Regions from separate parts of the Homo sapiens genome. Here region 1 is linked to region 2. Evidence: fine-mapped expression QTL. A gene starts in region 2. The other region holds a variant in brackets. All regions are shown on one strand. Distances are from middle to middle.

Evidence for each region.
Region 1: its variant is fine-mapped to the expression of CACNG3 in testis (GTEx, PIP above 0.99).

Annotation. Positions count from the first base shown.
Region 1 is chr16:24,340,943-24,348,942 of GRCh38, reverse strand. CACNG3 (calcium voltage-gated channel auxiliary subunit gamma 3) reads right to left here. Exons shown (of 4, transcript NM_006539.4): 2 at 2,126-2,209. Among named protein-coding and RNA genes, the nearest start is that of CACNG3, 89 kb to the right of the region's middle. RefSeq lists an enhancer at 4,910-5,411. The variant G/A (reference allele first, on the strand shown) is at 3,731.
Region 2 is chr16:24,244,263-24,259,901 of GRCh38, reverse strand. CACNG3 (calcium voltage-gated channel auxiliary subunit gamma 3) reads right to left here and starts at 3,567. Exons shown (of 4, transcript NM_006539.4): 1 at 2,937-3,567. The coding sequence starts at 3,147. LINC02194 (long intergenic non-protein coding RNA 2194) reads right to left here. Exons shown (of 4, transcript NR_146569.1): 2 at 12,006-12,070; 3 at 7,771-7,969; 4 at 7,042-7,195. RefSeq lists enhancers at 3,092-3,819, 12,393-13,592.

The sequences.
Region 1 (8,000 bases), 93 kb before region 2:
ACGAGAAAAAAATACTTTGTCAGAAAAGCTATGGGCCTCTCTGAAGAACTTAAAATCAGCTATACAAGTTGTGAAGAGAAGTCACAGTTCTGTTTAGTCTCCGACAGAGCAAACGTCAACATGTTTTATCAACATGAAAAAGAAAAACAAAGAAAATCTATGGGCACTCTGGTAAAACCCCACTGGTGATGACTAATGCCATTCTCTATTGAGAAGATGCAAGTGATCTGTGTCATCTCCCAAATTTTGGTTAAGCTACATCTCTAAGTGTGGCTAATTTTGCTCTCCACACTGAATCTTTTTGAGCTGCTGATGTGAGGGGTGAGAAAAGAAAACAACTTTTATCTGAGTAACGCAAGTCCTTTTAATTATCAGGCCCAGAGAGACATTACAATGAGACAGTGATCACATCCTTCTCTCCTCTTTGAGCTGGGTACTCATCTCTTGAAATTGCTGGCTTTTGCCACAAGTAGCATAAATTAACCTAATAATGCTGCATCTGACACTATCCTCCACACCGTGTAGCCAGTCACTAATCAATATTATTGATTAGCGCAATGGCACAATCAATGCAATGGCACGATCACTGCAATGGCACTGCAGCCTCAGCTTCCTGGGCTCAAGCAATCCTCCCACCTCAGCCTCCCAAGTAGCTGGGACTAAGGGTGTGCACTACCATGCCTGGATAATTAAAAAAAAAAAAATTCTGTAGAGTTGGCGACTTAATATGTTGCCCAGACTGGTCTTGAACTCCTGGCTTCAAGTGATCCTCCCACCTTGGCCTCCTAAAGTGCTGAGATTACAGGTGTGAGCCATTGCACTTGGCCTCACTATTTTGAGTGAATCCAACACAAATTCTTGCTGAAGAAATTACATTAAAATCCCAAATCAAGTTCTCTCTGTGCCTTGACCAATGGAAGGCTCATCTCTGCAGTGAATTTTGCATTGCTAATCCCATGCAAGAAACGGGAGCTAATGCATATTGCCTCCTGACTATGTGTTGGGCCCCGGCTAATTTTTGTGACCCTGTCAGATGGATGACATTATAATCTCCATTTCAGAAAAAAATGAAGAAAGGTAGGAACTAGAGAGAGAGGTAAAGCCCCTTGCCTCAAGTCCAACCCAGCTAGTAGAGTCAAACAAGGGTCAAAGCCCAGATTCCAGAGGCCTTGGCTCAAAGCCACCACATTCTTTTGGCTCCTACATGCTGTAGTTGTGACGGTTCATGTCATATCCAGGTTACTGACTTTGGAAAAATCCTACAGAGACATTGGCTCTGTCCCAGTAGGACTGAAACTGGAGGGAAGTCAAAGAAGAGGTGAACTTGGGTTTGTATTTATTCTCCTAGGTCTTGCTCCTTGGGACCTCACCCATTAGCACCTCACATCACCCATTAGCACTCTGCCATTAGCACCTCCAATCAACCCTCCTGGGAAAGTGAAAACTTGCATTCAAGTTAGAGAAAGTTCCTTAGATTTTTCTCCTAAACTGACTAAAAAGAACCTTTCAGTTTTGACTCACCTACTTTTCTGTCTTCCTTCCTGCCTTCCTTCCTTCCTCCCTTCTCTTTCTCTTTCTCTTTCTCATTCTCATTCTCCTTTTCTTTCTCCTTCTCTTTCTTTTCAGAGACAGGGTCTCACTCTGTCACCCAGGCTGGACTGCAGTGGTATGATCATAGCTCACTGCAGCCTCAATCCCCTGGGCTTAAATGATCCTCCCACCTTAGCCTCCTGAGTAGCTAGGACTACAGGTGTGTGCCACCACATGCAGCTAATTTTTTAATTTTTTGTAGAGATGGGTTCTTGCTATATTGCCCAGGCTGATCTCGACCTCCTGAGCTCAAGCGATCCTTTCTGGCCTCTGCCTCCCAGAGTGCTGGGATTACAGGCATGAACCATCCCCCACCCTACCCCCTGCTTCTTCTTTCTGTTTCTAATTCATTGAAACTAAAGAGGCTTAGCTCTCAGAACCACTTGAGTGTCTCTGTGTACTGGCACATGGGGCTTCTTTGCACTTATCTATTTCTAGGGACAGATGCTGAGGAAGCTCCGACTCAGAGGCAGCTGAGTGATGGCAGAGGCCCATCCCTTCCTCCCAGAGAGACCCGAGAAGCCGGGGAACTTACGCAGGAGATATTCGGCTGTGTCCTGTTCGTAGTCAGCATCTTCAGGGAAGTGATCGATTTTCTTGCACACGCCTCGGAAAGCCCCTGTGGAAACAGATAAGGGTTCTGAGCCTGGGGGAGGAGACAGAGCTCTGGGGGCCAGCCTGGGTCCTCACCGCTATGTGCAGATCCTTTCTCTGGTTGTTGGGGGCTGTAGGGTTGTTGGGCTGGTAGGCCCAAGAGCACCTTTATTTTTTATTAGAGACAGGGTCTCATTCTGTGGCCCAGGCTGGAGTGCAGTGGTGCAATCATGGCTCACTGCAGTCTTGAACTCTTGGGCTCAAGTGATCCTCTCACCCCAGCCTCCCAAGTAGCTGGGACTATAGGCATGTGCCACTATGCCTGGCTAATTCAACATTTTTTGATAGTGACAACAAAAGGTCTCACTATCTTGCCCAGGCTGGCCTCAAACTCCTGGCCACAAGCGATCCTCCCTTCCTCAGCCTCCCAAAGTGCTAGGATTACAGGCATGAGCCAACGGGATCAGTCATCAACAGCATGTTTCTTTAGGGCACAAAAAAGAGACCAGTAGAGGCAAAAGATAAACAATACAAAGCAGGAGATGGAAATTTGCTGCTTTTTAGATTTTGCATGATGTTGGGATCCACTTCAGAAGCGCAAAAACACCATGAAACATAAACACTAATTATGAAGACTATCTTATCTTTCCCCTCTCCTCCAGTCAGTGAAGGAAAAAGCAGGCAGAATTCAAGTACATCATTTTTTTCGCTCATTTTACCAATGAGGAAACAGGGCTTAAGAATTTTTCTTGAAATCACTCAGGTAAGTAGCTATTTAGGTTGATGTAAAAGTAATTGTGCAGTTGTGCAATTACTTTTGCACCAACCTAAATAGAACCGGCATTCCAATCAAGAGCTGAGTCCAGGCATTCCAGAATAGTCCACTCTCCCCAATGATGTTCATATCTGACCACAGGACACTCCCTTTCCCTCTCTGCCCTCCCAAAGGATCACAGCTCATCTCCCTCGCTATGAGGTTCACCCCTTTGGGAGCCTCAGATTTGCTGAACATGCATCTTGAACATCCGTCCACATTTGCTGTCTTTTTTGTTTTGTTTGAGACAGAGTTTCTCTCTTGTCGCCCAGTTTGGATTGCAATGGCACGATCTCGGCTCACTGCAACCTCTGCCTCCCGGGTTCAAGAGATTATCCTGCCTCAGCCTCCCGAGTAACTGGGATTACAGGCACCTGCCACCATGCCCGGCTAATTTTTGTATTTTTAGGAGAGATGGGTTTCACCATGTTGACCAGGCTGATCTCGAACTCCTGACATCAGGTGATCCACCTGCCTCGGCCTCCCAATGTGCTGGGATTACAGGCGTGAGCCACCTTGCCCGGCTGAGGTGTGGATGTTTAATCATCATTTTGGGTGTTAGTTAACTAGACAGTTAACCAGTCTCTGGGGGCAGTTAATAGCTCTGCCAGTTCTTTTAAAGGACAAAAAATTTTCCAGAAATTATGCATTCTTGTCCCTTTCCCTGTCTGTGTAGCTGGAGTGGAATCAGGGGGGCGGGCATTGTGATGTCGTGGGAAACGGACAAGGTTC[G/A]GAATCAGACAGAGCTGCGTTGGTATTTCAGAACTGTTATTGTAAGAATGAAATAAAGCTATACATGAACATGAGATAATTTTTGCAAAGCTCTAGGCATGTCATAATAATGGCTGACACTTATTAAGTGCTTCCAATTGGCCAGGCACATAGCTGAAACCTTACACCCCTTATCTCATTTACCCTTGTTTACCACCCCAGGAGGTAGAGGCTATTAGTATTAACATTTGATAATGAGACAATGGAAAATCACAGAGGAGATGGTGTCACAGCTGGTGAGTGACGGAATTGATTTTTGGATCCAGGTTTCAAAGGCTGTGTAGTTTCACCATTACACTATGAATAGTAGCCGTTATTATTATGGCTACCATGGCTACTATCATGATGTCTATTATGATCTCATAAAAATAAGAGTGTCATATATTTAATTTCTACTATAAGTAGGCTCCAGGCCAGAGCCATTTCATAATAAATGCCTTGGGATATGTAGAACATCTCCTTGGTTCTGATTCTCCGCTTACCAGGCAAATAATAGACTCAGAACCAGGAAGGAGGTTCAGGAGAGAAGACTCAAGGAAATTCTTAGAAAAAAGACAGACCCATAATTTCTTCCCTGATATTGGGAAAAAAAGACCTTATTCATGCTTGTTCATATTTTAGAGTTTCATTTATATATGCCTGTTTGGTTTTAAGCCCCATCCCCTTCCAGTTGACTGGATAAGAAATCATAATAAGTAACACACGTGTGCACCTACTATATACCAGGTACCATTCTAAGCATTTATGCATTTTTTTTTTTTTTCTGAGACTGAGTCTTGCTCTATTGCCCAGGTTGGAGTGCAGTGGCACGATCTCAACTCGCTGCAACCTCCACCTCCCAGGTTCAAGCGATTCTTGTGCCACAGCCTCCCGACCACCAGGCCTGGCTAATTTTTGTATTTTTAGTAGAGACAGGGTTTCACCATGTTGGCCAGGCTGGTCTTGAACCCCTGACCTCAGGTGAACCACCCGCCTCAGCCTCCCAAAGCACTGGGATTACAGATGTGAGCCACTGCGCCTGGCCACATTTACGTGTTTTATCCTCTTTAGCTATCTAAATGACTTTATGAGGTGCCTAATGTTATTTATTTATTATTTTTTTGAGACGGAATCTCGCCCAGACTGGAGTGCAGTGACGCAATCTTGGCTCACTGCTTGCTCTGCTCACGCCATTCTCCTGCCTCAGCCGCCTGAGTAGCTGGGATTAAAGGCGCCTGCCACCATGCCTGGCTAATTTTTTGTATTTCTAGTAGAGACGGGGTTTCACTGTGTTAGCCAGGATGGTCTTGATCTCCTGACCTCCTGATCTACCCGTCTCAGACTCCCAAAGTGCTGGGATTACAGGTGTGAGCCACTGTGCCCGGCCTGAGATGCCTAATGTTATAATGAGGCAATGTTATTAATATGAGGAGGAAATTGAAGCTTAGCCAAGTCACCGATTTACTCAAGGACACAGCTTGACATTTACCAGCTGACCCCAAAGACAAAGTTCCTAACTACTATTATGAATTACACTCTCTTCAACAAGTCTGTATTGTGAACTAAGTTCTTTGCCTGGTCGCTTCATGATCATTTTATAGCCTACCCCCTACTATTGATGTTGGCAATGAACTGGACCAGTGGCTTCTCCATTAACTATGCTTCCCCATGGCATGTCCCAGGGGCACCTGGGCAGGGGAAGGGTGTTGGTAGTGACACCATCCATTGTTAGTTGATTTCCGTACTCCTCATTATTTGCTGTTTTCCACGAAAGATTTCAAAGGAAGAAAGTGTTCAGGTGAAGATGGAATGGGAACCTTACTAAATACAGACCAGTCAGAATTACTGAGGGAATTCGGAACTACATACACGTGGGCATCTGCTTGTGAAATGGGCCTATTCATGGTGACTTCAGGCAGCTTGAAACTAAGACTTAGAACCAGCAAACGCCAGTAGCTCCTGGAGACGCAGTCACTAGTTTTGTTGTTGTTGTTTGTTTGTTTTTTAGGCAGAGTTTCGCTCTTGTCACCCAGGCTGGAGTGCAATGGTGTAATCATAGCCCACTGCAACCTCCGCCTCCCCAGTTCAAGCGATTCTCCTGCCTCAGCCTCCCAAGTAGCTGGGACTACAGGCATGCACCACTATGCCCAGCTAATTTTTTATTTTTAGTAGAGAAAGGGTTTTGCCATATTGTCCAGGCTGGTCTTGAACTCCTGGCCTCAGCTGATCCACCTGCCTCAGCCTCCTGAAGTGCTGGGATTACAGGGGTGAGCCACTGCGCCTGGCCTGCAGTCACCAGTTTTTAATGGTCTAAAGCAGCTTACTACTACCCACGTTTGTACAGCCCATGAGCCAAGAATGGTTTTTGCATATTTAGATAGTTGAAAAAAAAATCGAAAGAATATTATTTGTGACCTGCAAAAAAATGTGAAATTCAGATTTCAGCGTCGGAAAATAAAATTTTATTGAAACACAATCGTGCCCATTTGTTTATATTGCTTCAATTTCCTCATTATAACATTAGGCTCCTCATGAAGCCATTTTGAGAACAAAAGAAAATAAAACATGTTGATGCCACTATAACAGAGTTCAGTATTTGCCACAGAGATAGCAAAGCTGAAAATATTTACTCTCTGGCTGTTTAACAACAATTTTGCTGGTCCCCGGTTTAAAGATTTCTGTCCCAAGAAGGCAAAAATGGAAAGCAAAGGGGAGTTTGGGCCTTCCTGGGATAGAAGATGTAATCTAGGCTGGTGTTTCTAAAGTAGATAATATTGGCTTCTGGCGCAAATCTGGGTTGCAGACTGTTTCATTTTGTGGTTTAATCTGTGTGTGTTTGTTTTACCTGCAATACTCTTTTGCACATTTTATTTTTAAAAATTAAGTAAGCTTCTGCATTTTATTTTATTTTTATTTTATTTTATTTTGAGATGGAGTCTTGCTTTGTCACCCAGGCTGGAGTGCAGTGGTGCAATCTTAGCTTACTGCAACCTCCACCTCCTGGGTTCAAGTGATTCTCCTGCCTCAGCCTCCTGAGTAGCTGGGATTACAGGCGCGTGCCACCATGCCCGGCTGATTTTTGTATTTTTAGTAGAGACAGGGTTTCACCATGTTGGCCAGGCTGGTCTTGAACTCCTGACCTCAGGTGATCCGCCTGCTGCAGCCTCCCAAAGCGCTGGGATGACAGGCGTGAGCCACCGCTCCTGGCCTATGCTGCTGCAATTTAAAATTCTGAATATTTCACATTAAAAACTGATTCGCAGTTTCTCTTCAAAAATGGGGACCTCTGTCTCACATTTCCATGCGGGAGTAATGAATCCCTGGATGACGTAGCTGACATCAGCAGCCCTCTTTAGACTGGGTGTAAACTCTCCAGTTGGCCAAAGTCCCCACCTGGCTCTATATTCTTGCCTGGCCCTGTAGATATTTGAGTTTGCAACCCCCGAACCAAAATGTATTTAGTAAGAGCCCAGTCTTTGGTGTCCCACGTAGGCATGAATCCTGACTCAGCCACTTACTAGTTGTGGTATCTATGGCAAATTACCTCTCCAAACCTCAGTTCCTTCTTCTACAGAATGAAGATAATAATAGTAACTTCATGGAGTTGCCATGAGAATTAGTTGAGGCAGTAATAGCAGTTATTACGCCAGTTGCTGTTCTCAGCACTTTACACATAAATCTTTTAATTAGGCAATGACATAAAGCACTTAGTACAGTTCCTGGAGTATGGTAGGAACTCAGTATATTACAGCTATTATTACCGTTGGTTTTGGTAGGTACTTTAGGATCACAAGAGACACATTGGCGCCATGGTGAGATTTTAAGAAGCAATATAGAAGGAAAAGGAATCAAGAATTTTCCCCAAGGAAGACTCCACACTGAAAATGAATCTGCTGGCAACCCATGTCATACATGCATCACAAAGTGAGCTTGGACATTCATGTAAGTAGCATATTGCTGGCTCCCAGAAATAACCACTATTTAGCATTTTTGTATATTTCCTTCCAGGCTTTTTTTCCCCTGTGCTTTCGCACACAAATGGCTTTACAAAACTGGGATCGTGCTGTTCTTCTCACTTATATTTTCTTAGGAGTATCCTCCCATATCAGTAAATCTTAGAAAAGTAGAATGAGATTGGACTTGCCCACCCACTGTAGAAGATGGAACCAAGAGAGATGGTGAAAACATGCAGACTGCAAGGATGAAGTCAGGATGCAGAGAAGAGCACAGCTTTAAGTTCAGGCATTGGAGC
Region 2 (15,639 bases):
TAATCTAATTTTTTAAAAGTTCCTCATGAGAATCTGATGACCAGCAAAGTTGGGAAACGATGTAGTTTGCTTATTCTTGAATATTTTTGGTGTTGGAAGACCCATCACCTGCCAAAGCTTCCCATTCCACATTGGATAGTTATTTATATTGAGGTAAAACCTGGTTTCCTCTAGCTCCTACTTCTACCTCCTTGAGGCCACACAGAACATCTCAAATCTCTCTTTCATATGACAGCCCTTCAGATATTTGCAGACAGCTGTCATGTTCTCCTTGGCATTCTCTTCTTTTGGATAAAATAATCACATTGTCTCATGGCTCTTTAAAAAAGCACAGAAGAACAAACATTTCTAATTTGACCTCTAAGAAAATGGAGCTACGAAAACCCCCAGTTTTCATTTGACACTTAAAGGACCAGAAAATGAGGATTTTGAGGCTCAGGTGTAGGTAAGAAATACTGAATGGGAAAGGACTGTTCATCTTCATTCTAGCAAAGGATGGAAATGCCTGGGATGGATGCTACCAACTGCATGTGACTTCCCATGCAGAAATCAGAGGCTTCTGCAAATTCCCCAAACACTTGATGTGTTTAGTACACATCTTGGCTTCAAATTTCAGCCAGGACCCACCTAGGTGTTAATTACATGGGTGCAGCCATAGCTAATATTTTATTGTGATTCATTGTGATTTGTGCATCTTACTGTATTTAATACTTCAAAAAAGTGAACAACAACAAAAAAAGCCAGGCCAAGTTGTATGGGGACTGCAACACATTTTCTCAATAGAATTCACCTGCCCAAGGTTATGTCTTCAATTCATCCAATTCCTTCTTGATTCAATTTCTCACTTCTCCCACTAAGCCTACAGAATGCCTGGCTGGGGTTTCAATTCCTTGTACAAACTGTGGGTGTAGGACTTGATGTTGGAAAAAAGAGAAATCATCAGTTGAGAAATTCTTAGCAAGTGTTTAGAAATTTTAGGTCCTACCTCTGCTCTTATAGATATATATTTTTTTCATAGATCATAATGAGGAACGTCAAACTTCATTTTTAATTGTGCATTCTCAGGTTTGATTCCCAGAGGCAGAAGAATTGGAAATGGCTAAAGCACTGTATACATATGTGCCATTTTTGGCTTGGAGGAACCTTAGAACTTCTATGCCATCTCTAGAACCATGTAGATATCGCAACATCCACCAAATCAGTTTTACAAAAGATAATTCAATTCCTTATAGCCAATATAAGAAAGGGAAATATGGAATTTCCCTGAGGTAAATGACTTCACCATACCCAATCACAAATGCTCACAAATATCCAACTTTTGTCATTGTTTAGGAAATAATTATTCTAGAATTTCTGTCAGTATATTGAATACAGTATAAGCTTTAGATAATGTTAATTCAAGACCACCTAATCCAAACGTATCATTTCCCAGATGAATAAACTGAGAGTTGGAGAGGGTAAATGTCTTAACCAAGGCCACAGCGATACTTTGCAGCATTACCCAGGTCTTCTGACTTCACATGATCCTTGCTGCATTAAAGGTAGCCCTTTCCTACCTGGGCTTCCCACCAGTTGCAAATTTGTGTTAGAAACAGAATCAATTGTAGTAGCGCTACGGTCAGGAGAGCAGTTGTTCAAAGTGTCAGGACATGGGAAAAAGGCCAGAGAATGATGCAATATTACACTGGCAAGTGATGTCATAGCATGATTTCCCAAGCGATTTACATAAATGCAAGTTCTCAAGAAGCCCTGACAAATGCCAGCCAGTGAAAATGCAGTGTGAAGAACCAATGGCAAGCAGGGGAGGGGACCACACAGGAAACGCAGATTTCCTTGCCCACCACTGTGACAAGCTTCACAGATTTCTCGGAAGCCTAAGAAAACCCCTACTGCCCCTCTAATCCAGTGACTTCCCTCAGGCACATAGGCTCCAAAGAGCTTTGATTTTCTTCCTTATCTTTCTATTTACTCCCAGTGATATCCAAGCATTGCCTACTGGTGCTGAGAGTGACTTCTGGTGTGGTGAAAGCAAGTTTAATAGTGTGATAGGCTACAAAAGGGCTTTATATTTTTAAATTGCTCTTTCTTCTTCATTATAAGTTATAACTACTCCCTAATTTTTAGAACTAGAAATGACGAACTGCAATTCTTGGAGAATCAGTCTTTTGTAAATGTCATGGAAATACCTTTTTAGGGGTTTGGGAATGATTTAGGAATGAAGACAGGTGGATACAAAATACCAAGACTTCAGTTTTGTTGTGATCCAAACTAATAAAACATGTATCAATAAGGATTTTTTCTTAAAATGTGTGCATAGGGTGTGGGTGGGAGTAGGGGTTTACATATGTTACCCTGTTACTGATTGGCAGTGGAAGTTCATGACAATATCTAGTTAGAGCAAACTCAGGAGAAACTGATAAGTCTATGTTGAGAAATAATGAAATAGCTCAGAATGTGCCAGACCGGGTCAGGATCTCTCTCTCTCTCTCTCTCTCTCTCTCTCTCTCTCTCTCTCTCTCTCTCTCTCTCTCTCCCCCCTCACTTCTTTCCTCTTGTCCCTTCTCCTCCCTTCCCTCCCCCTCCCTTCGAAATCCAATTTAAGCAGGGTTAAAGACCCCATCTCAAGCCAGAGATCCAAGCAGTTGACAATATGCCTAGGGATTTTGGATTTGAAGACTTTTCTAAACTGCAGAAGCTGCCTAGAGTGTGACAAAAATCTCATCTCATGAAGCTTATACTAAAAACAATCAACAAGACCCAACCCCTTTAACCCACATGGCGTCAGTCTTGCTGTTAACAGAGTCTGGGCACCTGCACATTCTCAGCAATAATTTGAACTTCTCTTCTTTCCTTATCACCATTTCCATCTCCTCCAAACACCCACCAGAATATCAGAACTGGATTATTCAGAGCTATTGAGAGGAAATTGTAAATACCTTCTAGGCAGCAGGTCCTCCACAGCCCCGAATGGGTCATTACTTCTTCATTCTTCCTGCTGGTTTCATTATCACTTGTAGATTTAGTCCTGCACACACCTCTGGAATATAACCAGTAGTCCGTGCCCACTGCAATGGTCATTAAACTAAAAGCGGCAAAGGCTCCTACAGTGGTGATCAACATCTGGATACCTCTGTCACACATCCTCATAATTCTTCATGGTACTCTGGACGGCTGGGGGTTGGAGGGGGAGAGTCAGTGCCGGAGGGGAAAATCACTCTGCAGCCGGGTAACCTAGTACAGGCTCTTCCAAAAATTCAGGTCTCCTTTTGTCAGCATCCACAGGGACTTTGGGAAAGCTGGGATTTCCTTTCTGGAGCTCTCTCCAGTTCCCTGGGTCGCCTATGGCCCTCGGAAGGGTGCAGGCTCCGGGGGGTTGGTCCGCATCACTGCTGCCTTCTGAGGGTCCCTGGGTTCCTTTCATTCCTCAGGAGCGTGGTAAAGACGAGGGTCCGTGCAGGGCATGGCTCCGGAGCCTGGAGCTGCCAGCTCGGTTTGAGATGCGCCTGGCTTCTCACAGCCCCGGGAGACTCAAGGCAAAGAAACCCAGAGAGGTCTCTGTGTGAGTGTGTGTGTGTGTGTGTGTGCGTGCGTGCGTGTGTGTGCGAGCGCGTGTGCTGGGGGTGAGGGCGGATGGCAAAAAATAGCACTGCTGGGAGGCGAGCCGCTGAGAAGAGTGTTCACTGCTTCCACAGCCTCGCAGGAAAGCTCTCCGCCTGCTCCCGACACCCCCGCTCAAACTGGAGAAAAGACAGAGTCCTGGGGCGGGGGCCGGCTGGTTTCCCTGGGGGCGCCAAGGTCCGTGGTGCTGAAGGGACAGCTCCCCGCCTGTTGCCCCGCCTCCGTCGTCTTAACGCCTAGGCTTTAAGGTCCGTGGTGCCGAAGGGACAGCTCCCTCATGCAGCTGCACACCGCCGCCCGGGCTAGAAACCCGGGGTGCTAAAGGGTCTTTCTTCCCTCACCCCGCCCTTCCCCCGTTCCTTCCCGGGTCAGCCAGCCGGCTCGGCTCTGCCCAGTCAAGCCCACTCTCCGCGCAAAGTTTCTGGAGCCGAGGACAGTCAGCGCCCTGGCTCCTGGGCGCTGCAGCACGACCCGGTTCCTCCGCTCTAGGAAGGGTTAAGGAAAGGGGAAGGGGAGCGAAGCCCGTAGCGCACTCTGGCGCTCCCTCAGCACCCACCCAACGCGGCATTCTTCAATCCTCCCTTTCACCCCATGAGCCAGGCAAGTTTGCCTTTTGCTGCGGGCACCACTGGAGCCCATTGGGGAAAAAGAAGACCCGAAAGACCGAGTCTTCTTAAAGGCACCGGCAGCTCTGGAGACGGCTCTATGGCTCGCTTAGGCGGGCAAAAAGTGTTGTCACAATCACATCTGTGTAGAGTCTGTCTCAATTTGGTTCCCCAGCAAACAAACCAATATGTCTACCCTCCTTTCTCTGGAGCTCTGGTTTACACCGAAGACAACCCGCTCAGATCAGACCCGGAACTGTTCATATATACATGATCATGTATTCCTAAAAGATGGAAGAAGCTAAATATACATAGACTCTGTCATACACATATTAGGGACCTTGGGCAAAAGACTATAAGATTTTGGCCTTTGAATATGCCTTTTATACATTTTAACATATCTACATCGAAGGGGGTGATGGATTCATGGTGGGAGAGTCACTGAAAATGTCAGATTTTGTTCAAAGGTCTCTGAGATATCATTTGTTAACATTGTTATCTAAGTGAGACCATGAAGCAGGTGAAGTTAGGTCTGCTTTGCTTGTTAGTCCAAAGGGCAAATGGCATTGCACACCTGAAAGCTCTCTTCCTTGGAAATAGCCAGTATTGCAAAGGACCAGCATTTAACCAGCTTTTTATTACTATGTATTCCGGCATATGCATGGGCACACACCGAGTTGACTAGAAACAGCCCACAGAAATGCCCTTATTATTTTTTTTCTTATGGCATCCTGGGACTGATATCCAGAGGTCAGATAGTTGGAAATGAGGTTGCTTGGGTTGTTTCCACAGTTCCTGAGATGTGTCCGCAACCAACTGTCATGTTTGAATGTTATTTAGCTGGACAGAAATATAACGGGAGGTAATCGCAGACAAACATACTCCCCTGGTGCCATCTCTGGCTGCCTGGGAACTTCTATTCAGGTGACTGGGTAGCAGGAATATATTGAAGGGTTCGCAAATGCAGCTCACAACTTCTTGGTGACTTTGCTACTTTCATTTTGGTGTTAAGACTGAAGACTTTATTCTTGGTGTTAGATAAATACTCATGTGCAGGAGGAAGTTTGAATATATAGCTGTGGAGTGATTGTGTTTGAATGCTCACCTGTGCTATGTTCAGTTTAGTTATAAATTCTGAATGCCTGTGAATCCGTCATAGAAGTAAAGCAAGTATGTAAATGTATGTTTGTACCTGCAGACAGTGTTATGGACCATGTGAACATATTTGCTGCAAATGCCTAGCATTTTTGCTATGCATATGCATACATATTTGCACATGTATGTGTATGCATGCACGTGTGTAGGTATAGTATAGATTTGAATATGTAGGTGTGTATACCTATGAGCATTTAGTTGCATATGCATGTGTCGTGGTTCAAAAACACTGATTTATGGACAGGAGGTAGAAATACTGAAATCTTGCCACATAATCCACAATGGAATGGATAAACTTGGGGCCAGCACCACAGCCGTACTCCAGAAGAATGACAGAAGATAGTAGGGAGAGGATACACGAGGGCCCCTACAAGTTTCTTAGTGTCATTTTCTTTCCTGAAATGAAAATTTGCATCTTAATAAAAATATCCTGCCTTGATTGTTATTACCTTTCTTTTTTAAGGGAAAGCCATATGTAACATGGAGGTGAGGTTGGTATTTCTTGGGAGGGATTAATTCAGTTAGCAAAAATTTCTCTCCCCACTCTCAGAAAGGTAAATAAGATGAAATAATTACTAATGATCAAAGCAGTCATTTCAGGATCTGTTTGATTCTTCTCTTGCTTGGATAGAAGTGAGAAAGGTCTTCTTTCAAAGAAGGACCATGTTGATGAAAGGTGAGTGAGCTTCGGGCTAAGGGACAGTATGCCCCAATCTCTCCATTTACCAGACCCACAGTGGAACAGCAGCATCTTCATCTCCACCCACTTAGCTCTACAACAGAAGCGCAGACAAGCAGAGTATGGTGCCCAGGAGCCTAGCAGAAGGATAGTTGGGGGAAAAGGATCAGGAGCTCAGGTAGATGAAGGTAACAATTATGGGTCAGGATGCACCCAGTTTTGCTGAATAAGAGAAAGGGATACATGTGATAAAACTGGAGCTTTGTCCTGAGCCTCTGACTTGGTGAGGCAGGCTCATTCTTTGGAATTGCTGTCCAGGGCCAACCTGATCACTGTGGGAAGTCCCGAGCCTGCATGTGGAGCAAGTCAGAACAACTGAACGGAGTGGGAGTGTGGAGGCAGGGAGGCCGCAGTTTGTTCCCTATCATGCCTCCCAACTTACTAGGGGGTGACCTCATCCTTTCATTCAATTGAATGTGTAGGTGTGTGGACCTGGGCGCGTAGAATCTGCTTGTAAGGCTAGAGATCGTTCCTCATTTTCACCACTAGAGGGCTCTTTCAACAGATCAATGAGGGACCCAAGAGATTCAGAGCTCTCTCCAGGGCGGGCTGGAGCTAGACTCTTGTCTACTAATAGCCCTTTCTGATCCCACTTATCTGGCAGAAGACTAGGAGACATTCAGACATCTTGCAACTGATGTCTGATTCTCTTATTAAGACTTTTGTTTTCTTCTATTGGGCTGTCAGCTAGTGAAGTAGTTGGCACGGTGTATCTATTTATGCTTTTTCCTGTCCATCTTCTCATAACATCTGGAGGGGTCAGTGATCCCTGTAAATGGTTGTGTCATTTAGGAAGGAGTACTCTCAGTTGCTTCAATTCAACAGATGCTTTTCGAGTGCCTACTATGTGCAAGGCATTCCCCTATGTGCTCAGCACCTTGGAGAATACAAAGATATGATTCCCATCCCCCAGGGAGAAGATTATGCAGTTGGGAATATTTTATTAGTGAGTTCACTTTGACTGTAAATGGCAAAAACTTACCAGAGCTAGCTTAAGAAAATGGGGAATTTAGTACAAGAATATGACGATGTTTCAAGGAACCACAGGGCAGAGGTTCAATCAGGCCTTGGCAGGGAGCTGGAACCAGCAAAAAAAAAAAAAAAAAAAAAAAAAAAAATGCCATCAGGAGTCTTGACAGTCACTTCATTTTGCATCTCTGCCTCTTTTCATATTTTTAGTTGAAAAATTGTTTTGCTTCATCTATTCTTTGATCCTTGAAATAGAAGCTAGATTTTGAGTTCTTATGTCATCTCTATTTAAGAAACCCACCCAGACTAAACTGGGAAGTTTTAGTCCTAATTCAAAATTTCCGGGAGAGACAACCTGATCAGCCTAGCTTATGTTGCTTGCCACTTCCTGGTCCATGCAGCTGTGGCCAACGATTCAGGGTCATGTACTATAAACGCAGCCATCAGGACCAGCCCCTGTGAGTTGTGGGAGGATAGTTCTTAGAAAAGGGGGAAATTCTGTGATACCTCAGAAGACTTCTGTGAAAAGTCTATGTGATCTACTTGTGGCACCACTCCAGTGATGTCCATGGGATCAGCAGTAAAATGTGACCACGAAGGAGAAGACAACATGGCAGGATATGGGGCTTAGAAGATATTGGACCCCAACTAACCTGGGTGTCAGTGGTACCAAACCAGCTTTACCTTTTGTCAGAAGAGAATGGAGCATCATCAGTTAGAAGAGAAAAAGTCTTCAGAGGTAAAGGCACCCACATGTGTGTAAGTCAAGGAGATGATGAAAACCAGGCACACATGGACTAAAGAGTGTCATCCCCGCCATCTTGAATTCTCTCTTGATGTTCACACATAGCCTTGTTATGAGTTTTCTACTTTTAGATTCAACCTATAGAAAAAAGCATTAAAAACCAAATATGCTTACAAAACATTCACACATCATTATTTCAACTTCAGTCTTGTTAACCTTCTTTCAGTATTCTCTCTCTTTCTCTATTCTCTATTCTCTCTTCTTTCTCTATTCTCTCTTTGAACCCAATTACATGAAGTTATGTTTCTACTCTCTAGACAGTGATAGAAATTGGAGGTAGAAGGAGGGGAATGGTAGGATGTAACATCCTGATATTATTATACAAAGAGAATAGACAAGATATACTTCTAGAGTTGATAAAAGGAGATCTAGAGTATCTGGTATGTCATTGAAAATTAAAGATAACCAATATAAAAATAAAAATATTCTAATCTATATTTGGAGAAGAGAAGAAGAGAGGTTGAGGTGAAATGAACTAAAATAAAATGAAATGAGTAATGAGAATGAACAGGATGGGACCAGAACAGTTGTTTTTCACTACAGCCACTTCTATCTGATTTTAAAAATCTTATACATGTATGTTTTGATAAAAGTTTAAAGTTAATTCAAAAATAAATAAAAACAGTAAGCACTGTGCCACCTGTCCTTCTCCTCCAACTACCTCCTATTTTATTGATACAGAAATGCCAGGTGTTTCCTGTGACTCACCCATTGATTTCCTGTGCTGAGAATGCTCTTCCCTGAATATACTTTATATGTAAGAAACATTTATTTTAAAATAATTTTGAATTTACACACAAATTGCTGCCACTAGATATTGTCATGGTTCAATCCCTCACTTCATTCATACCTCAGCTCAAATGTCACCTTCTTAGAGAATTCTTTAACTGCTCTATCTAAAAATAACACCCCATACTTCTCTCTATACTCTCACTCTGCTTTTTCTTCATAGCATTTATCAATATCTGACATTATACTGTATATATGTACATATATGCTTTTGTGCTTATTGTCATCTTCCCAACTAAAGCCAAATAACTCCATGAGAACAGGTGCATTGTCTTGTTCAAATCTAAATTATCAGACCCTAGAATAGTGCTCAGGATATAGTAGGCATTTAAATAGTATTTGTTTAATCAACTAACTGCATAAGTAATTATTAAGATTTACACCTGTGACAGGCACTGATGAGCAAATAACAAGCAGGAAAGAGATTGCTCTTGATCACTTGAAACTCTTAGTCTCATGAAGAGGACAGAGACAATTGGACCAATAAGAGCAATTGCAGGCCAGATGCAGTGGCTTGTGCTTGTAATCCCAGCACTTTGCTAGGCTGAGGTGGGAGAATCACTTAAGGCCAGGAGTTTGAGACCAGCCTGGGCAACATAGTGAGACCTTGTCTCTCCAAAAATAAATAAATAAATAAATAAAATTAGAATTAGCCAGGCATGGTAGTGAACACCTGTAATCCAAGCCGCTCAAGAGACTGAGGCAGGAGAGTCCTTTGAGCCTGGGAGTTCAAGACTGCAGTGAGCCATGATGGTGCCACTGCACTCCAGCCTGGGCAATAGAGTGAGACCCTGTCTCAAAGAAGAAGAGGAGGAGGAGGAGGAGGAGGAGAAGGAGGAGGAAAAAGAAGAAGAAGGAGAAGAAGAGGAAGAAGAAGAAGAAGAAGAAGAAGAAGAAGAAGAAGAAGAAGAAGAAGAAGAAGAAGAAGAAGAAGAAGATGTTGTTGTTGGTACACCACTCTTCAGATTCTCTTTACTGAATTGATTCATTTATACACCTCTAGCCCTGACCTTTCTAACCCACAGCTGCCCCTTCCAGGGATAATTGGTCTCAGCTGATGGGAGCTGCCTCTCCCGAGGAATTAGAGCCCTTCTCCCTGCAGTCAGATACAAGGGTGCAAAAGTCTGGCCTCTTCCCAGAGGCAGGGACAACTCTGAGATACAATTTATGCTCTAGAGTCTTCCGATGATCAGGCCAAGACTACCACATCCTCGTTGGGCTTCATCTCCATCCTCTATGGTTGCCAAACCATAGTGTGCATTAGAGTCGCTTAGAAGGCTTGTTGAATGAGACATTATTGGGCTCCACCCTCAAAGTTTCCAAGGTGGGTGGTGCTTGAAGATGTTCATTTTCAGCAAGTTCTCAAGAGGTATTAATACTGCTCTTTAGGAAACCACAACTGGAGAATCATTGCCTTTTCTTATGCTTGTTCCCATACTCCCTTGGGGTTTTTCCTAAAGGTTACTTTCTCAATAAGTCTTTTGCATCCAAATGTCTGCCTTAGGCTCTGCTTCTAGGGAATGCTACCTAAGACAACAAGGAGGAATAGTAAGGAACTACATTCCCAAACAGTTCCCAAGCTTGATACATAGCAACCTGAGACTATTAAATCCCTAAACAGCTAAACTCCTAAAAGATCCTTGAGCCCAACAAGAAGCTTGTCCTTTCCAATTCCACCTCAGATGAATCTAGGGAGAGAGATGGACACAGAAGAACCTTCCAGGGGGCAGAGAGTAGGGTGATGAAAAGTAATGAATAAGGAAGTTTCTCTCTGAAAAGGGAACAGATTTGCCAGCCAGGAAAGTCTTCCATTCTTAGGAAAGACAAATATTATTCTTGCTCAGTTGATCACTTCTATACATGTGTGACTGCTGTGTGTACTTTAGTCTCTGCTTTTAAAAGGAGTTTTTTTTTTATTATGTGGCTCCTTCTGCACAATTAAATGATGGATGTGCTGGAAGCAAGTAAATTGTCTTTTAGTTTAGACCAAGAGAGGACACACCCAAACCTGCTGTAGAGGGCTGCAAGCTGCCCAGAAATCTTACCTTTTACGTGGATGAGACTTTGGGGGTGATGTCCTTTGGGTAAAGATAAATGTATTCTATGTATAGAATGACATTTTCTGACTAATTATCAGAGAAAAGCAAATTAAAACCACAATGGGGTATCATCTTTTTCCAGTTAGAATGGCTATTATTAAAAAGTCAAAAAATAACAGATGTTGGTGAGGATGCAGAGGAAAGGAAATGCTTACATACTGTTGGTGGGAATGTAAATTAGTACAGCCTCTATGGAAAACAGTATAAAAATATCTCGGCTGGGCGCAGTGGCTCACGCCTATAATCCCAGCACTTTGGGAGGCCGAGGCATGTGGATCACTTGAGGTCAGGAGTTTGAGACCAGCCTGGCCAACATGGTGAAGCCCCATCTCTACTAAAAATACAAAAATTATCCAGGTGTGGTGGCATGTGCTTGTAGTGCCGGCTTCTTGGGATGCTGAGGCAAGAGAATCACTTGAACTCAGAAGGCAGAGAGGCTGCAGTGAGCTGAGATTGCGATACTGCACCCCAGCCTGGATGACAGAGCAAGACTCTGTCTTAAAAAAAAAAAAAAAAAGAAAAGAAAAAAAGATTTCTTAAAGAGCTAAAAATAGGACTACTATTCTACTGTTCAATCAGCAATCCCACTACTGGGTATACTGGGTATATACTCAAAGGGAAATAAATAATTATATCAAAAAGATACCCACACTTGTGTGTTTTTTGCAGCACTATTCACAATACAAAAATGTGAAGTAAACCAAAGTGTCCATTAATGGAGGATTGGATAAGGAAAACGTGATATATATATGTGTGTGTGTGTGTGTATATATATATATATATATATATATATATATGCCATAGAATACTATGCATCCACAAAAAAGAATGAAATTATGTCTTTTGCAGCAATATGGATAAAATTGGAGGTCATTACCCTCACTAAAATAACTCAGAAACAGAAAGCCTAATGCTACATGTTCTCACTTACAAGTAGGAGTTAAACAATGCGTACATATGGACATACAAAGTAGAAAAAATAGACTTTGGAGACTCCAAAAGAGGGTAGGAGGGGGGTGAGGGCTAAAAAATTACCTATTGGGTACAATATTTACTATTTGGGTGATGGGTACACTACTATTTGGGTGATGGGTACACTACTTCACCCCTATGCAATATACGCATGAAAGAAAACTGCATTTGTACCCTCTAAATATATATTTTTCAAATAATGATATTTGCTGGCAAAAAAAAGTGGATTGTTACAGAATCTTCTAGTTACTTACCCAGTAGGCTTTCCTTATTTCTTCTTACATAAGACTCCAATTGTGACTGGGGACACTCTCTCTAGCTGAAATAAAGTTACATTGTTCAGTTTTCCTCACAGAGTAGGATGGTTTTGTCATAAAATTCTGACTGATACAATGTAATCAAAAATTGCAGTGTAGATAATGGCTAAAAGGTGAGAACAACCCAAGTATTCGTCAACAGACAAATGGATAAACATAATGTGGTATATACATAGAGTGGAATATTATTCAGCCATAAAAAGAGTGAAGTTCAGATACATGTCACAACATGGATGAATCTTGAAGACATTGTGCTAAGCAAAATAAGCCCGATGCAAAAGGACAAATATGGCATGATTCCATTTATATGAGGTACGTAAACAGGCAAGTGCACAGAGACAGACAGTAGATTAGAGTTTATCAGGGGCTGAGAGGAGACAGGAATGAGGAGTTATTGCTTAATAGTTACAGAATTTTTGTTAGATATATGAAACAATTTTAGAAATAGAGGTGATGATTGCATAACCTTGTGAATGTGATTAATGCCACTGAATTGTATGCTTACAAACATTTACAATGGCAAATATTATATATATTTTACCAAAATTTAAGAAAGGGAAAACCAAACTTGTTCTGTGGGTTTTCTGTAAAATCTCCTCCCAGCAGGTTTTTGGACAGACTTTGCTAGCACGTAGGTGACACCTTTTGCTCTTGGCTTTCTTCCTACCCGGAACTAGGACTTAATGGTGGAGTCAGATCAGCCATGTTGTTGCATAAGGTAACAAGCACATGTTTAGGATACCTGAAAATAAAACAGAAGAAGCCTGATCCAGGTGTGGTGGCTCATGCTTGTAATGCCAACTATTCAGGAGGCTGAGGTGGGAGGCTCACTTGAGCCCAGGAGTACATCCTGAGCAACATAGCAATATCCCCTCTCATCTCTAAAAGTTTTCTTTTTTTTTTTTTTGCCAGGTATGCTGGAGTATGTCTGTAATCCTGATTACTTGGGAGGCCAAGGTGGGAAGATCACTGGAGCCCTGGACATGGAGGCTGCAGTCAGCTATAATCCCATATCATTGCACTCCAGCCTTGGCAACAGAGATATACTGAAAGAAGCCAGAGTCCTTGATAGCATTATGGCGCTACTACTACAGGCCAAAAGCTTTTATCTCAACAATTCTCATTACATGATGAAAACAGACTCTTTCACGTATTTCACCCCTTTTCAAGTTTAGCAGGTGAGCACAATTCCTAATTTATTCAGGCAAGGAGACATGAAATTAGAGAGGTAGCCTATTGGTCATAAGCTTCTAGTTACAGTTAACAGAAATCCAACTTAAAGTATATAAGACAAACAGAAGTAATCAATTAATATATGTAACTTAAAAGTCCAAAGGTAGATATCTATAGCTTCTGGGGTCCGTCTCTCTCCATCTCAGACCTCCCCCCTCTGCACTTAGCAGGCTGTCTTCTCAAGCACCAAGAGCTCCTGGCTTGCATCTTACCAGCTGAGCAATCCTAGGAGAAAGAGGACATCTCTCCACCAACAGTTACAGTAAATGTCTTGGGGCTGCTTTCTCATTGACTCATTTAGTTCATACCCACCTGAACCAATCATAATGGACACAAAATGGAATTCACTGATTTCTAGGTTTGGGCTTCCTTTCCAATCTCTGGGCATATAGGAAGGAAAACTGGCCTTATTTTAATCCATGTGGATGGACAGTAGCATAAAGGATGATGTTTTAGAGAAAATCGAGGGTGCTGTTACCAGAAGAAGGTTGGATAAATGGTAGGAAGTAAAGAATAATAGCTATTCACTGTGCACTACAGATAAACAGATTCCAAATTATTCAGGGACTTTTAGCCATGTTAGGTCACTCAACAAGTATCTATTAAGATCTACTTATTTGCTAAGCACTGCTGTAGGTTCTAAGGGTACAGCAATGAGCAAGACAGATAGATTCCCTGCTTTGAAAGAGCTTATATTTTAGGTGAGGGAGATAGCCAGTAAACATGAAACCAACCAACAAAACAAACAAAAAAATGCAGGTAGTGAAAAATGCTGCAAAAAATAAACGTAAGCAATGTGATACAATATGACCAATCTTGGCAGTAGAAGGACTGCTTTAGGTAGCATGGTCAGTGGGGCATTCTGGGGAGGTGGTTTCTGAGTTGAGAAAAGTCAATAGTGAAGGAGGAGTCAGTTCTAAGAGGATCTAGAAAAAGGTATCCCCAGTGGAAGGATCATGAATGCAGCTTGTTGAAAAACAGAAATGGTCAAGTGGTAGACAAATGGTAAACAAGAGGAAAAATGGTAGAAAATCAGGTTAGGGAAGTGGACTGTGGCCAGACTGTATAGCCCTAGTTGGCCAGGTTAAATGAAGTTTGGGTGTTAATTCTTTTGCAGGGTGAAGCCATTGCACAATTTTAAGCAAGGGAGTTAACAAGATCTGATTTACAGTTCAGAGATTTCACTCTAGCCACAGAGTGGATGGCACAGGCAAGAATAAAGGCTTGGAGATGAATTAGGAGGCAGTGGCATTAACTCAGGCAAGAGATATTGTATTGATGTCTTGGATGTTAAGGAATATGACTGTTTCCTGAAAACTATGGGGAACATTGAGAGGTTTTAAGCGGGGAATGATGTGGTCAAATTTTTGTTTTGTTTTGTTTTGTTTTGTTTCTTAGTGGTACATCAGTGCCTTGTCTGTGCTCCATGGGACAAGAAATTGTAGCAGAGACCCGGAAGATGGCAAGAAAATAGCAGATCTCTTTGGCTCCAAGCTTCCCTAGGGCTTTGCTCTTCTTCTCACCACCTAGATTGAGGTATGAGGTGGGGAGGTTGTGAAATTGGCCATTTCCCCAAGACTTGACTTTAGAAACCAGACTCAGGATAAAGATCCCCCAAATTGTGTCTTGGACAAACTTTGCCAGAAGAATCAGGAGAAAGAACCTTTGTTCATCTCTAATCCAGAACAGGTTTTAGGAGAAAAACTTGAATCTATGGAAGCATCAGACCCTGCACTTAGAGCATGGCAGATAGTATTGGTAGAGAAAATGGGATGTGGGGCTAGAGAAGCTTGGGTTAGAGTCCTAATTGCATCATCTGTTGTGTGACCTTGAGAAATGTAATCTTTCAGTGTCACTTTTTCCTCATAAATAAAATATGGATAGTAATAGAAGCTATATCTTTGGTCAATGAAACCTCCTTCTTGTGTAATGAGGATTACATATGATAATACACATAAGTGCTTAACACAGTGCCTGGCACGTATTAGGTGTTCAATAAATGTCAGCTGCAGCTATAAATAGAAGTATGATGCCAAAGAAGCTGGCTCTTAATGAGATTTGCTTTAATCTGCCACCTTCAGAATAACAAACGGCTATTACGTGGTTAATCAGTTTCCCTGAGACTTACACAAGAGGAAAACAAAATGACCCAAGAGGCAGTTAGAGATTCAAAAGGTGTCTTTATTGAGAGATGATATAAATACTTCAAATAGACAACTAAGAAGCTTAAAACCTTCCTAAAATTTTGGAAACCTTCCTAAAATCAAGTGAAATAGAATGTAGTTTGGGGCTCTTCCTAGTGGCTTGGAATGTTGGCCAAATCCTCAAAGGTGAAAAC